Regions from separate parts of the Homo sapiens genome. Here region 1 is linked to region 2. The links come from fine-mapping of genetic effects on plasma protein levels. A gene starts in region 2. The other region holds a variant in brackets. All regions are shown on one strand. Distances are from middle to middle. Region 1 overlaps GPRC5C (G protein-coupled receptor class C group 5 member C). Region 2 holds the start of GPRC5C (G protein-coupled receptor class C group 5 member C).

Evidence for each region. A credible set is the group of variants that fine-mapping cannot tell apart. PIP is the posterior inclusion probability: the model's chance that the variant is causal. The UK Biobank Pharma Proteomics Project read protein levels with antibody pairs (Olink). The fine-mapping took linkage between variants from a reference panel, not from the people measured, so its PIPs are less certain.
Region 1: its variant is the best candidate, but not a certain one, in a credible set for the plasma level of the GPRC5C protein (UK Biobank, PIP 0.54).

Annotation. Positions count from the first base shown.
Region 1 is chr17:74,438,475-74,446,474 of GRCh38, reverse strand. It overlaps GPRC5C (G protein-coupled receptor class C group 5 member C), which reads right to left. Exons shown (of 4, transcript NM_022036.4): 2 at 5,648-6,730; 3 at 2,563-2,657. The coding sequence starts at 6,698. Among named protein-coding and RNA genes, the nearest start is that of GPRC5C, 10 kb to the right of the region's middle. RefSeq lists enhancers at 1,166-1,709, 1,710-2,254, 3,297-3,416. The variant G/C (reference allele first, on the strand shown) is at 3,642.
Region 2 is chr17:74,428,443-74,436,442 of GRCh38, reverse strand. It overlaps GPRC5C (G protein-coupled receptor class C group 5 member C), which reads right to left and starts at 4,355. Exons shown (of 4, transcript NM_022036.4): 1 at 4,302-4,355. RefSeq lists a silencer at 5,343-5,482.

The DNA.
Region 1 (8,000 bases), 10 kb before region 2:
CAAGAATCTTTTTTTTTTTTTTTGAGACGGAGTCTCGCTCTGTCGCCCAGGCTGGAGTGCAGTGGCGTGATCTCGGCCAACTGCAAACTCTGCCTCCCGGGTTCACGCCATTCTCCTGCCTCAGCCTCCCGAGTAGCTGGGACTACAGGAGCCCGCCACCGTGCCCGGCTAATTTTTTGTATTTTTATTAGAGACGGTGTTTCATCATGTTAGCCAGGATGGTCTCAATCTCCTGACCTCGTGATCCACCCGCCTCGGCTTCCCAAAGTGCCGGGATTATAGGTGTGAGCCACCATGCCCGGCTCCTCCAAGAATATTACCCCGAGTCGACCGCCTGTCACTACCATACCCCCAGCATCACAGTTGCTGGCTTCCCTGGCGGAGGACATGGCTCTGGGTGTGCCCACACATCTCTCTAGGCATCTAGTCTGGCCGGTCTGATTTGGAGTCTTTTTTTTTTTTTTGTAGAGATGGTGGGCGGGGGGGGGGGGTCTCACTACGTTGCCAGGGCTGCTCTCGAACCCTCGGCCTCAAGCAGTTCTCCCATGTCAGTCTCCCAGAGCACTGGGATTAAAGGCATGAGCCACTGCAACCAGCCCTGATTTGGAGTCTTGAAACCTGAATTCTCTGCCTGGCGCTGGGTCTTGCTCCCATGTGGGTGAGAGACACCAGCTGTGGGGTGAAGAGGGTCCTGAGGTACCTGTTCCGGCTCCTATGCTGGAGGAAAGGTGTATTCCTGGCCCCATCTGTCTTAGCCCTATGGGAAAGAGCTGCCACCAAATCTCTGTAGCTCCCAGACCCCAAACTAGCCTTCAAGTCAATCAGGCCCAGGAGGTCCTCAGGCCTGTCTGCAATGGCCCCTGTCCATGTGGTCCCTGGAACATCTACATCTGTGGTCCAAAACCACAGATGAGTGTGCATTGGAATCACCTGCACTGCTTGTTAAGCCTCACCAACTCATAGCTGGACCCTACACAGTCCCCACGCAGACTCCACCAACTCATAGCTGGACCCTACACAGTCCCCACCCAACACAGCTGGCCCCATGCAGCTGGCAACAGCTGGGGCTGGGGGAGGGAGTGCTGAATGCTGGGCTTGCAGATCTGCGCTGGATAGTGCCCCCATGGTGCCGACGCCCTGAACGGATGCTAACAGTCAGCTCCATCCCAGCTCTGGCCCCGCCCCATCTGCACTTTTTTTTTTTTTTCTTATTTATTTATTTTTGGAGACAGAGTCTCACTCTGTTGTCCAGGCTGGAGTGCAGTGGTACAGTCTGTGCTCACTGCAACCTCCACCTCCCGGGTTCAAGGGATCCTCTGGCTAAGGCCTTCCTAGTAGCTGGGACTACAGGCATGTGCCACTATGCCTGGCTGATTTTTGTGTTTTTAGTAGAGATGAGGTTTCAGCATGTTGGCCAGGCTGGTCTCAAACTCCTGACCTCAGGTGATCCACCTGCCTCAGCCTCTCAAAGTACTGGGATTACAGGTGTGAGCCATTGTGCCTGGCCCCCATTTGCACTTTGAGCAGGCTCCCAGGTGAGGCTAGTGCTGGTGGTCCGGGTACCATGTTTTGAGAACCGGTCAGATAAAATATCCCTGTTAATCCAGATCATCCCCCAGGAAGCAGACTCCAAACGCGCTGGGGAGTGAGGTGCAGCAACAGTGAAGGAAGCTATTCAGCAAAGGCTTCTGTGGCTGCCCACTCCCCGCCAGAGCTGACAGCCCGCAGCCTCCACTCCTGGTGCTCCGGAAGCTCTCCTCTGCCCAGGCTCAGGTTCAGGCTCAGGGAGAGGGGAGGCGCTGGGATTGGAAGCTTCAGCCACACTCACCTCCCCCTGCCCCGCGGCTCTCACAGAGAGGGCGGGGAGGGGGATGAGAACGCCACCCAGCTGACCTCCTTGTTTCCTGTTCCCAGTGTCCTGCCAAGACGGGTCACTGACCTCTCCCCACAGCCTCTGCCAGCCGGGAGGAGGAACACATATAGGAGTGAGTAGAATCCAACCCACCGTCTTCCTGCTCCCTCCCCCTCCCCTGGCTAACGATGCTTCTAGTTTCCAGAACCCAGGGGGAGGTGTAAGGTCGAGACTTGCTGCCTGCCAGAGAGGGAGGAGAGTGTGGGCCCCCTTGGCACAGCTGTGGTTGAGAAGTAAACACCTATCCAGACCTGTGACATTTGGACCCCTGTCTATTTTGGGAGCACCTGGCTGAGACCCTCCTTTGTCCCTCCCCAAGCCCTCCAGGGTAAAGCTGGCAGCTCCCACCAGGGAGAGCTCACCCAGCATTCCCTATAGCATCCCGACACAACCTGTGTGCAATGCCCCAGTGACACAGGGCGGGTCCCACTGCAGTGCAGCTGAAGGTGGTGGGTACACTGACTCCAGGACAAGGAATTTAAGAACTGGGGCTCTGGATTCCCCAGGTAAAAGCACCAGATGGAGAAGCTTGCCTTCCCCTTACCACCTCCACCCAACCCAGCTCTGGCCACATGGCCTTCTCCCACTGGCCTGCTGAGGCTGGTCTCTGTAGCCCAGACGTGTCACGGGGACCTGGGGAACCCACTTACCGGAACTTTGTGCATCAGGGCCATCTCAGTGGGCTGGTACACACTGGTCAGCAGCTGCCCATTGTACCCGCTGTATGGTGACACCGGCCTCTTAGCTACAAGGAAAAGCAGGAACAGTTTGAAGATCCCAGGGCTCTCAGCTCCCTTCCCCACCTCCCACAAACCAAGCAAGGCTCTCTGGGGGCAGGGAAGAGGTAAAGGGGGCAGGCCAACCCTGGCATAGTCTCTAACCCAGGAGTGGCCAACTTGGGGGTGAGGTTGTGAACACGGGGGCCCCCTCCCAAGCCTAGCACCCCTTTGTACAGATGCATGGGAGTGAACAACACTGCTGAGCTTCCCTGCACTGTAGACACCCCAGCCCCTGACCCAACAGCTCAGAAAATGCTCTGTCAGCAACTTCCACATCCCCATCCGCCCTCCGGGGCCAGAGGCCAAGAGGACACATGGGCCTTCGGCCGCCTTCCAAGATGGCCAGCCTCCAGCTCTGCCTGTCACCACGGGCCAGCTGCCAGGCACAGAGGTAAATACATCTGAGAGCCCTCGGCCTAAGCCTGTTCATGTCCTCCCAGGGCCGACCTGGGCGCCCCTTCCCCACTACACCAACCCAGAGCCTGGCCAGGGAGCCTTAACGCACGTCCCAGCCTGTGGCCCCCTGGCAAGTTTCCAGAACTATTTTTAGCTCCAGGGATACTTCCTTGTGCCTTTGGGGTGTTGGTTTCCCGGTGTGTTCCGCCCTGCTGGGCACTCCCAGGGTGTTTGAGGAGGGCTGCTGACGCACCCCGGGGCCTCGGAGCAGGCCTTGCTGTGAGGACGGCACAGCGGACGTCTGGCTCCGGCAAGGCTGACGGCCCTGCAGTTCTGAGGGACCGCAACCTATATAGAGTTTCCTAAGTGCTGGGGCTGGGCTCACTCTATTGATTTTTCCATTTAGAAAAAAAAAAAGGAAGTAAAAACTCAGCCCCAAGGTTGAGAACCATTTGGCCCCGACCGGCATTCAGTGTGGGGGCGGGGCCTGAGGCTCCTCCCAGCACTTGTCTGTAAGCCCCACCTCTCTGGTGGGTTTTGCCAATTCCACCCCC[G/C]CCATGCACACCGTGCGTGTGACAGGGGCCACCCAGGGGTGAGGCCAGCACCTCAGCCCAGGTGGGCAGATCAAAGATCAAGTGCCCGGCAGGACAAGGGTCATCTCTTTCTCCAAAGCAGGGATTATGAGGATTTCACAGTGTGTAGAAGAGAAAGGAATGTCTCTGATTCTGGAACTTCCACTGCCTGACTCTGACCTCCCAGCAGAGACCCCAGAGCCGGTGCTTGTTAACCGGGCAGTTAAGAAAGTCTGAAGCCCCCAGGCCTCCAGATCAGCACAGTCTGGGGGCAGGGTCAGGACTTTGAGATGGCACCCCCAAATTTCCAGGTCATGTCAGATGAGGGGCTGCAGCCAGCAGGCTGAGGAAGAGCAGGTGGGATGCGTGCAATGGGCCACATCGGTAAGGGGATTAGCACAGGGGCTGGCACAGAGCAGGTGCTGAGGAAATGCTAGTGGGCTGTACAGCTAACAAGGGCGCTGCTGAGACCACTACACGGCACCCCAAATACTTTTATTAAAAAGAGAAAAAGGCCAGGTGCAGTGGCTCACACCTGTAATCCCAGCACTTTGGGATGCCGAGGCAGGCGGATCACTTGAGGTTAGCAGTTCGAGACCAGCCTGGCCAACATAGTGAAATCCCGTCTCTATTAAAAATACAAAAATTAGCCAGGTGTGGTGGCACGTGCCTGTAATCCCAGCTACTTGGGAGGCTGAGGCAGGAGAATCTCTTGAGCCCGGGAGGCGGAGGTTGCAGTGAGCCAAGATCACACCACTGTACTCCAGCCTGGGTGACAGAGCGAGACTCCGTCTCAAAAAATAAAAAAAGAGAAAAAAATTACCTGAAAAATACTTCCTTTTAAAGAAAACTAAGGTGATTATGGATACATACATAATAGAAAAACAAGTTCTGGAAGGATAGTATTAGTAAAATATGTAAAATAATAGACACGCACACACAGCAAATAGCTAATTCTTCAAGAGTGCTTTTCATGGGCCGGGCACTAAGTAATTTTTTTTTTTTTTGAGATCATCCAGGCTGGAATGTGGTGGTGCAATCACGGCTCACTGAAGCCTCAACCTCCTGGGCTCAGGCAATCCTCCTGCCTCAGCCTCCTGAGGAGCTGGGACCATAGGCATGCACTACCACACCTGGCTAATTTTTGAAATTATTTGTAGAGACGGGGCCTCACTATGTTGTCCAGGCCGGTCTCAAACTCCTAGGCTCAAGCTCCACTCACCTCAGCCTCCCAAAGTGCTGGGATTACAGGTGTGAGCCATGGCGCCCAGCCGGCACTAATTAATTCAATCCTCACAAGAACCCTATGAAATAGGTACTGACATTATCCCCATTTTACAAATGGAGAAACAAAGGCACATAGATATTATATCAGTCAATAGTGGTCACTTCTGGGGATGGAACAGGATGGGACGGGTAGGACTGGGGAGGCAGCTGGGGAAAATTTCATTTTATCTGTAATGTTTGAAATTTTACAGTGAGAATGTATGCATGAATTATATGAATATAGAAAAAAAATCTTATTTATTTATTTATTTTGAGATGGAGTCTTGCTCTGTCACCCAGGCTGGAGTGTAGTGGCTCGATTTTGGCTCACTGCAACCTCCGCCTCCCAGGTTCAAGTGATTCTCCCGCCTCAGCCTCCCGAGTAGCTGAGATCACAGGCATGAGCCAGCACACCCAGCTAATTTTTTTGGATTTCTAGTAGAGACGGGGTTTCACCATGTGGATCAGGCTGGTCTCGAACTCCTCGTCTCAAGTGATCCACCCGCCTTGGCCTCCCAAAGTGCTAGGATTACAGGCATGATCTACCATGCCCAACTGAAAAAAAAAAATCTTTAAATTAAATGGAATTTAGAGACACTTAGGCAGAAAACTACAGAAAACCTCAAAAACTTTCCATTTTGCTCAAGAGACTGGCTCCCTGTCCTGCAGTAAAAGACATGGGATGGAGAAAGGGGCCACTGGGGGCATCCACAGAGACCCACCTGCAACCGGCTCATCCATGGAAAAGGCCTTGTTCTCCACGAACATGCTCTGACCCTTCTGCTCTTTCAGGATGGTCTCATAGCCCACGCCCCGGGTGGGGTACATGTCCCCCTGGTAGCTTTGCTCTGGGCTGGACTTGGTCACCTGGGAGACCTCGGGGATGACGTAGAAGAGGACGAAGGCCCAGGCATTGGCGGCGAGGGCGATGGCCAGCGTGGGGTCATCCCAGGTGGGACTGTTGTGCTGCTTGTTGCCGTAAGTATACATGACGATCCACACCACCCATATGGCAACGGAGGTGGCTGTGGTGAGGAGCACAAAGACCCCATGCTTACGCCAGCGCTTGTAGCGGCCACACAGGGCGGGCCAGGCCCCCAGGAAGGCACCCAGCAGCAGCAGCATGACGTAGATGAGTGCCATGACAAAGTCCATGTTGGCGATGGCACAGGGGGAGGCCACGGCCCAGCCTGCGCTGCTGTTGCCCTGAGGGCCGCCCTCGCCACTGCCCCGAACCAGGGTGATGATCAGCCACTCTGTATTGATGATGACCTCTACCAGGGTCAGCAGCAGAGCCACAGTGAAGATCACCCAGCCCCGGGGCCCGTGGTTCTTCCGGGCCAGGAAGTTGAGGGCAAAGACGTGAGCCGCCAGACAAGAGAAGCAGATGGCGAACAGAACCCCAAAGAGGAAGCGCCGAGAGGCACAGGTGGAGAAGTCGGGCTTCACCACACAGGCAAACACGAGGCAGAAGAGGCCCAGGGTCCCCAGAAGGAAGAATACCTGGGTCCCCAGCAGGCTCCGTTTCTTGGTGTCCTGCACAAAGGGGAGGCTGGCCACCAGGATGATGGTGAGCACAAACGTGGTGACAATGCCCGCCCCAGCCACGGCCTCCAGGACGATGCCCCACGCCCCAGAGCGGTCACACAGGTTGTAGTACAGGGGGTTGAGGCCTTGGCTGCAGCCGGGTGGGACATGGCCCTGGGCCCAGGCCCCTGGGAACAGGAAGAGAGGCAGTCCCAGGCACATCACCAAGGCTTTGTGGATGGCCATCCTGGCTCCCAGGCCAGGCTCTGGTTGGGTCCCTAGAGACAGAAGGAAAAGGGACAAAATTAGTCCTCCAAGATCAGACTCCAATATACATGGTGCTGCTTCCCCCAACCTAAACCCAGGCAGATAGTGCTAGCTGCTGACCGTGAGGCTCTCTGGACCTCAGAATCCTTCTTAACATAGAACCCCTGAGAGGCATTTCAACTGGCCACAGAGGCAAATGAGATGAAGCCCATTTGTCAGCCCTATTCCTAGCCATGGCAAAAGAAAAACCTGTCATTGAATTTTCAGTTCCCTCCCTTCCACCAAACATAACCTGGGTTCAGATATTCCCTGAGCTCTGGCGGCCACGGTGGAGGATGAAGGGGCTTGTGAACAAGTCAAGACCAAGCATACCACCCACCCAGTACCTCCTCTCTGCCCTGGGACTTTCAGGCTTCAGGAGGTCAGCTGCTATGCCCCTAAACTCCATTCCTGTGAGGCCTAAATCCACAGCCAGTCAGCTATGTGTTCATTCATTCATTCAATAGACTTAACAAGCAGCTGCAGCAGGCATAACCAACAGCCAGGAAAAATGAAGAGACAGTCATTTTCCCACTTTTAGTGCCAAGTCTCCAGTTCAGAATCCTCCATTTTTTGCCTAGCTCGGAAGCGGAAGTCAAGGGTGAAATAAACGAAGTCCCCAGCTAAGGAGTTAATGACTTAATGCAAAAATTTTCCTTCGGAGCATTAACATTTTAAAAGTAAGAACCAGGCAAGGGCAATGCAAAACCCAAAGGAATTAATCTTTAATAGAAGACTTTAAGACGTTGTAGCTAGAAGGCAAGAAAATTAGCTTTTATTAACACCAGCAAGGTAATTTTCACTCCATCTACTGACTGCCGCTCTACCAAATGCCACAGATCTGTGCCAGAGAAGAAAACCAAACTCCTGCTCCCAATACCAATTGGATTTTCCCACGTGAAGTGGAGGTAATGGATTTAACAGGTTAAGAAATATTAAAGACCAAATCAATGAGTTTTTTTCCAATCAAAAGTTTTAAATGTACTTGGAGGAAACCTAACACTGAAAATTTAAATGCTGCTGGGCACGGTGGTTCATGCCTATAATCCCAGCACTTTGGGAGGTCAAGGTGAACAGATTGCTAGAGTCCAGGAGTTTGAGACCAGCCTGGGCAACATGGTGAAACCCCGTCTCTATAAAAAACACAAAAATTAGCAGCTGGGTGCAGTGGCTCACGCCTGTAATCCCAGCACTTTGGGAGGCCAAGACTGGTGGATCACTTGAGGTCAGGAGTTCGAGACC
Region 2 (8,000 bases):
ACAGGCAGAGTAGAGAAAGACTGTTCCGCAGAGTTTTACTCAGAATCTAATAAAAAAACATACCAGGTCCCAGACACTGCCAAGAGACAGGGACACCCAAAAGCTAAGCCCTGAAGAATGTGAGGAAGGACTGAGCAGGTGAAGGGAACAAGGAGAGGGACGTGCAAGGCAGAAAAGATGGTGTGAATCAAAGCCCTTTGAGCCCAAGTCCAGAGCAAGTTAAAAAAGAATTCAGTTTGCCAAGTATCAGCTGAGTCTGCAAAGGGAGGCTGCAGCTGCTGGCTGACACATTGGAAATGCTACAGGGGTGGGGCTGGGGGCATTATCCTAAAGGCAACAGGCAGCCACTGAAGGCTGCTTTTAGCATCATGGGGGCATAGCCAGGGTTGCGCTTTTAGGAAAAGAGTCTGGCAAAAATGCACAGGCAATCGATTTGTTGGGGGGCACATTCATTCCAGTTTAAAGGTCAAGGCCAAAGGTAAAGCCATAATGGCCAGCTCTGAAAGATCCTTTCCAAAAAACAATCGAAGGACTGGTTGGATGGCGGAGGTGGGGGAAAAGGATACTAAAGCCCATACTACAAGTTCAAATCTAACAGGCATGTCATTACAGAAAACCAAGCCAGGGACCAATGTCACTCATTCTTCTTGATCCATCTTGCCCTAGAAATACTTGCCTGTACCCTGCTGGCTCCAAGAAGCCCACAGGCACTTGGGCTAGGGTCAGGAAAGCTTCACAGCTCTCTGTCCCTAAGCCCCCACCTCCAGTTTCCCCCTGATTTTGTGGTTGGTGACCAGCAACTTCCTTCTGCACCTGACCCTTCAAGTCTTGCTTCTCCTGCCAACCCCCTCAATATAGAAACTTTCAAGGAATGAGAGAGGAGCCTGTACCTGCCCCTCACCGCATCCAGGTACCATGCTGCTGCCCAGCAGCCAGGCTGCTGCTTTTAGTAAGTTGCTGAGTAACTTAACAGCCTCAGAGGAAACAACCTGGTCCCATCCTGAAATATCTTATTTCTCTGGTTCCCCCAGAAATGGAAGGGCAGGTGGGAAGACAGAAATACATGGACTCAGGTGGGAAACCTGGGCTTTCTGGGCGTGGCTCTCATCCACTGCCTAGGACAGGGACCCTCAGAGAGTTAAAGAGAAGCTCAGAAGAGCACAGCTCCAGCCCTCTGATGCCGGGAGTGCACATTCAGCCAATGCCTTTTTTTTTTCTTTTTTTGAGACGGAGTCTCGCTCTGTCGCCCAGGCTGGAGCGCAGTGGCGTGATCTCGGCTCACTGCAAGCTCCGCCTCCCAGGTTCATGCCATTCTCCTGCCTCAGCCTCCCGAGTAGCTGGGACTACAGGCGCCCGCCACCACGCCCGGCTAATTTTTTCTATTTTTAGTAGAGACGGGGTTTCACCGTGTTAGCTAGGATGGTCTCAATCTCCTGACCTCGTGATCCGCCCGCTTCGGCCTCCCAAAGTGCTGGGATTACAGGCGTGAGCCACTGCGCCCAGCCTTTTTTTTTTTCTTGAGACGAAGCTTCACTCTTGTTGCCCAGACTGGAGTGCAATGGCATGATCTCGGCTCACTGCAACCTCCAACTCCCAGGTTCAAGCAATTCTCCTGCCTCAGCCTCCCGAGTAGCTGGGATTACAGGTGCCCACCACCATGCCCAACTAATTTTTGTATTTTTAGTAGAGACAGGGTTTCACTATGTTGGCCAGGCTGGTCTCAAACTCCTGACCTAAGGTGATCCACCTACCTCAGCCTCTCAAAGTGCTGGGATTACAAGTGTGAGCCACCGTTCCCGGCCCAATGCCACCTTTTAAGATGGTGGCTAAGGGACTGACAAGATGGACTCAGCTCTGGTCAGAGGCTTTTCCTCAGGACCCTGGAGGAAACTTCTGCCTCCTGTGGGTCCCCAGACCCTGCACTAAGACTGAGCCTTCTGATCCCTGAACGTTCAAATCATGTCCGTGTCTCCCCTCCAGGGCTGTAAGGTCTTTGAAGCTGGTGAACAAGACTTCTAGAATCCACTGCCACAGCTGGTGCTGTGCCTGAACACAGTGGGCATTTGGAAGTCACCTCTGGATGGTCCCAGGTGCATTTCTCCACACCCAGGGTTGTCCCCTCCATGTTGGAGTTGCATCTTCTGCTTAAAGATTCTCAGAGGGTTCAAGGAGGGGGGTAGGAGGGGAACCTCCTTCCGCCCTGAGTCTCCCCCACCCCACAGCTGAAGCCCAGCTCCAGCCTCAGATTATTTTCTGGACAAAAGGGCCTTTTGCTTCACTTCCCTGGAATCAGTTGTACAAATATTTTTAATCGCCTCCGAAATCGGCCTTTCCCCAGGCTCAGCCACCCTGCCCCCAGCTCTCCTGTGAGTCAGTGCAGTCCAGTTGCTGAACCTCCCTCCTCCCTCCTTCTCTCTCCAGGGGGCGCAGAGGCCTGGTGGGCTCAGAGGCTCAGAGGCCCAGAGGCCCAAGCAGCCCTGACTGGTTTCCCCCAGCAACAAGTGGCTTCATCCAGCAACCGGGGAGACAGCCAGGCCTTCTCACTTCTCCAGAGCAAAACTCCCTTCCTCGCTCCAGCATCATCCACACACAAGCCTGAGACCCCCTCCACCCACCAGGGCCAAGGATACCGCACTGGAAAGAGAGCTCCAGCGCGTCACAGGGCCAACCAAACTCAACACTGACCCATGGCCAATGGCTGTCTTCAAGGGTGCTGTGACCAGGGCACTCTTCAGGGAGGTTCCCCCAGGGATACCACAGAGCACTTGCCTTCCTCCCATCCCACACACTCAAGAGCCTATAGGGAAAGACGATGGCCCGACTGACAGCCTTCCTGCCTCCACTCCTATCGGTCTCTCCCAGTCCCTGGTTAGGTCCCACTGTCTCACCCCTCTGTGCAGGGCGCTCAGGCGTTTACCCCATCGATAAGAAGGCGCACAGGAGACGCCTGTGCCTGGAAGGAGCGGCCTCAGTGTGTAGGTTGGTGGGGGGTGGGTTGGGGTTCCTCGAACCTCAGCCTAGACACCCCACCCCTATCCCCCTGCCCCTGCCCCGCACCAAGACCAGGCATTTGGGCCAAAATGCCCTGAGCTCTCTGAGACTTGGAAATCTTCAAGGGTCTGCTCTGGAATGTCACTCTGGAATGCGCCCCACCCCCCAATGCACTCCCTCCCCCAGTCCAGTTGAAGGCACAGGGGTGGGGGGCCGGCGGGGAGAGGAAGCTCCAGGAGCACAAAACCCTACTTCCAACAGTCTCCTCTCCCGGGCTTTAGGATCTTGATCGTGGAGTTTGTAAGTGATTGGGTCTTCCAGCGTGTAACACTGCGGGCCTGGGGATGGAGGTGCAAAGGACGCTGGAAAAGCCAGCCGGGAGTGGGGGTTCGGGATCTAGGGGCCAGGCTACCAGAAGGGGAGGCGCTTTGATAGTCTGAATTTCCAAACTTCCCTCAGGGGGATTCTGAACCCTCTCGTCCCTACTTGGGTCGACGGTACTGGGGTCTACACCTGCGCTCCCTGGGTGGCTGGAATGGGGAGCAAGGGAACCAGTCACTCTCTCCCATTTTTAGGGCCACAGAAACCTGCCCTCCACATCCACAGTAGCAGGCGGCAGAGAGGACGCCACCCACGAGAGAGAGTGACCGCGGACTCCCACCGAGAGGCAGGCGGTGGAGGGGCTCCTCTTGGAGACCCCGATTATGGAGTGGTTTCCCCTCCCTCCAGCCCGAGCCGCAGCGCCGGGCTCCCCCACCCCCCCAGTCCCCAGCCGGCTCGGGTTTGAAAACTTTCAGCGACCGAGCGGAGTTGGCGCGGCGTCCCCAGCCCGCAGGATGTCCAGTCCCCCCGCCTCTGCCCTCGCCCACTCCCCGCCGTCCCGACCCGACTCTTCCGGGCGGCGGAGCGGGAAGGCAGCAGCCCTTACCTGGGACTCGCCGCCGGCCCCGCTCCAGCGCAGCGTTTGGGGCCAACTCCAGCCCCAGGCGGGGGGCGGGCGGGGGTGGGAGGGACGCGGCGCGGGGCGCTGGGCCAGGCCCGGTCCTGGCTGGGATGGCGGGGCCCGGGCCGGGACGCAGGGCCTGCCTCTCCCTGGGACCGAGGCTGAGCCAGGCGCGCTGGGTTGCTCGCTCTCGCGCGGGCCTGTCCCCAGGCAGGGCTCCTTGCTTTCGGCGAGGGTGGGCTGGAGCCTGCATCACCGTTACATCACCTCCATTCAGGGCGCTAATCGGGCGCCCGCCGCGCTCCAGGTACGTGCGCTCCGTTTACACAGGAACAAAGCCTGCCCGGCCCTCCCCGCCCCGACTCACCTCCAGGCTGAGCCGACTCGTACTTTCCGGCTGGTGAGGGAGATGGGAGTTTCTGGCCCTGCCGGCGTGTGGGTTGTTGCTGTTGACTGCCACGCCCCCGCATGCGGGCGCGCGCACACTCACGCGCACTCACTTTCTGGGCTCGGCCTTCGCCGGGGCAATTGGTGTGAGGGTGCAGCCCTGCGCACCCCCCACCGCGTCTTCCAGAGAGCGCGCCTACGGACACGCGCGGGGCTACCTTGGCGCGTCTCCGTGGGGGACACCTAGCCTTTGTCACCTTCGTCCTGGCCCTCCCGTGAGACACACTTCAGGCACAGTTCGCTGGGAGCGGGCCGGAGCGAGGCGCACACTCAAGACAGAGTCCGTCTTTGTCACGCCTTCTGCGCCCCCTCCCCTCCCCAGCTTGCACACGTGGACACACCGCACACCGAGGTTCGCCTTTTGCACGCACGGTCCTTCTCTGGGACCTCCACCAGTCACCAAGCGTACGTGGGATCGTCACCAAGCGCTCCTCTCACGCGTGGGCCGAGTCCAGACCACTCTGGACCGTGGGCAAAGGTCCCCCTCGGCCCGACTACCCCGCGCCCGGGTTTCCTGTGACCGTTCCAGGTTCTGCCCAACTCGGAGCGCGCTCTCCCCTCCCGGCGTCCCCGTTCCCTGCTCCGACTTGTCCTAATTAGCCTTCACGGTTTTGTTCCCCGAGGTACAGTGTTTAGCGCGACCCCCTGGGCCTCTGCGCTCCGGGACACGTTGGCTCTGACTCCGAGTCCGTCCTTTCCAGGAGGTCAGGTTCCCACCAGCCCCACCCCCCACTCCCTGTTCCGGGGTGGATCTGTGGGTTGCCACCCTTTCCCCTCCGGCCCCAGGAATCTGCTGAAGCTGGACCGCAGAAATTGGGAAGCGAATCCAGGCTGGTACTTATCCAGCCCGATAAACAAGAGATTTTCCGGCCGCCTTCCCCCGGGGCTGCTGGCCTCGCGGGGGGTGGGGTGCGCAGTCCTGGGGGCCCGCAGCGAGGCCTAGTTAGCCCGCGCCAGAGGCCCGTAGGGGCTGAGGCGCACAGAGGAGGGAGAGGTTGTTGGGCCTGGCCAGGGCCCTGGAGACGCGGAGGGAGGGCAGGGCGCCGAGTCTCGGGGTGCCGGTTCTCATGACGCCGAATTGCCTGGGGGATCGCCAGCGGTGCGCCGGTCGGAGCCAGCTGGTGGCGGGGCGGGCGGCCCGGAGTGTTTGCTCAACCCTGAGCGCCCGCGAGGGGGAGGGGAGGCAGCTGGTCACGGGCTAGGGGGTAGCAAGGTGGAGGAGCGGGGGCTGGGAAAGGGGAGGGTATCTCCCGGGCTGCTTGTTTGCGTGCCTGCCGCGGTCTACGACAACCGGGAGTCTAAACTCTATGAATCACCCGGAGTTGCTGGAGCGATAAACCTCAGGCTGGTTCCTCCCCTCGCACACCGGCTTCTCGGACTCCTGGAGGGAATGTTTGCTTAGCGGCCGGAGCTGGCGGTGAGGCCCTGGTTCTCTAGAACCCTGTATCCCTTCCTGGCCTTGCCCTCACGGGCTGGTCTGGGGTGGCGAAGACTGAATTGTTTCAAGTCTCTTCAATATTAAGAAGAGGGGCGCAGTGCTGCTGCTGATCTGTTGCTCACTCCTGGGCTCCCTTCCGTAGCTCCACCTCCCACCCTAAGATTCAGAGGCCCCCATGCCAGGGAGGCAAACGCTTGTAGGGTCCAAGCAGTTGAGTGCCAACGCTAGAAAGGCAAACGGCGGGTCAGACCTAGGCGAGGGGCATCCGTGACTGTGGGCTGGGACTAGTTCTCGTGAAGCAGGCAACTGGTGCTGAACACAGTGTGCTGGGAGGGGCCGCTCATTAGCATATGTGAAAAGCCAGCTAAGAGCTAGAGGAAGGTGGAATGGAAATAGTCCCCGAGACTGCTTGTGACCTTAAGAAGCCAAAGATGAATTGTGGATCTGGCAGATCTGTTTCAATTTATTTTCAAGCTTTGGGAATCTCTTTTCCCTACCTAGATTCTCCAAAAAGGCAACTCTTTACCACTCCCTCCCGACCCAGGCGGGGGAAAGGCTGGGGCATCTGAGGCCTGGACGGAGCAGCGGAGCCCTGCCCACTGCCAGCCCTGCATGGTAGATGGCGGCGGATATGTAGGGAGGTTTCCTGAGAGCTGTTTGCTCTTTTTGTGTTCACTCCGTCTCACTTCCTGGGCAGGATTTGCCTTTAAAGGACAAAGCAAGTCCTTTGGGGCCGATGACATGGGCTTCAGCCTTCAGGGTCCCTGTTGGTCTCTGCTCTAGTCCCGGGGGCCTGTGCTGGTCCAGAGTGGGGAGGCAAGAGTTGGAGAAGGCATGAGACCCCTCCACCATGAGTCAGACCCTGGTGGGGGCTGCTGGACCCAGCGAGCCTGTGATGCTGGAAGGGAAGTTCTGTGGGAGGTGGCGCTGCTTTCCGAGACTCCAGCCACAGGGTCCTCTGTGCCCCCAAATGTCCTTCACTTTGATTTAATACCCCAGTAGGCGTAGAACCCATTGCAAACTCTGTTTTCACCAAAAAACTACACTCTGAGAAGTGTTCAAAGAGTGCTACTGTTCAAAGAGATCTTGAGGCCCAGCACAGTGACTCACGCCTATAATCCCAGCATTTTGGGAGTCCTAGGTGGGAGGATCGCATGAGCCCAGGAGTTGGAGACCAGCCTGGGCAACATAGACTTCATCTCTATTGAAACAAACGAAAAAGAAAATAGATATGGGGTCTCACTGTGTTGCTCTGGCTGGTCTTGAACTCTTGAGCTCCAGCGATCTTTCCGCCTCGGCCTCCCAAAGTGCTGGGATTCCAGGTATGAACCACTGCGCTCAGCCTATTTATTTTATTTTTTTTAATATATGAAATAAAAAGGAAAAAAAAAGATTCTGGATTGCGGAGAAGCATGTCTGTGTCCACCACCCAACTACCTCCACCCCCACCTGAGTTGGATTCCTACTGGCAGAGTGAGAAACCCTTTGTTCGTTGGAAAGCCTCCTTCAGAGATGTCTGAGGTCTTGACAAGGCCCAAAGGTGGGAACACCTGTGCCACCTGCCGGCTGTGTGACTTGGATGAGTTGCTTCATCTCTCTGAGCCCTGCTTTCCTCAACTGTAAAACTGGATGATAACATCACCCCCAGAATGAAGCTGTGTCTGGAATGTTCCTCACACAAGCCTGGTGCTTACAGGGAGCCAGCGATCAGCCTCCCCTTTCCTGGCATGATTGTCATTCCCTCTAAGCCTTGACAGGTCTGACAGTTTTTATTTATAATTTAAATTTAAATTAATCAATTATTTTTGAAACAGGATCTCACTCTGTCACCCCAGCTGGAGTGCGGTGCTGCGATCTCGGCTCAGTGCAGCCTCAACTTCCCAGGCTCAAGCAACCCTCCTGCCTCAGCCTCTCGAGTAGCTGGGACTATAGGAGTGCATCATCATGCATGGCTAATTTTTGCATTTTTTTGTAGAGATGGGGTCTCACTATGTTGCCCAGGCTGGTCTGGAACTCCTAGGCTCAAGCAATCCTCCCTCCTTGTCCTCCCAAAGTGCTGGGATTACAGGCATGAGCCACCGTGCTTGGCCTAATGGTTTTTAACCCAAACTCTTGCAGAAGCTGGCATTCTTTCAGTTCTGTTTCACCATGATTGGAATAGCTTTGCCATGCCATGCTCTG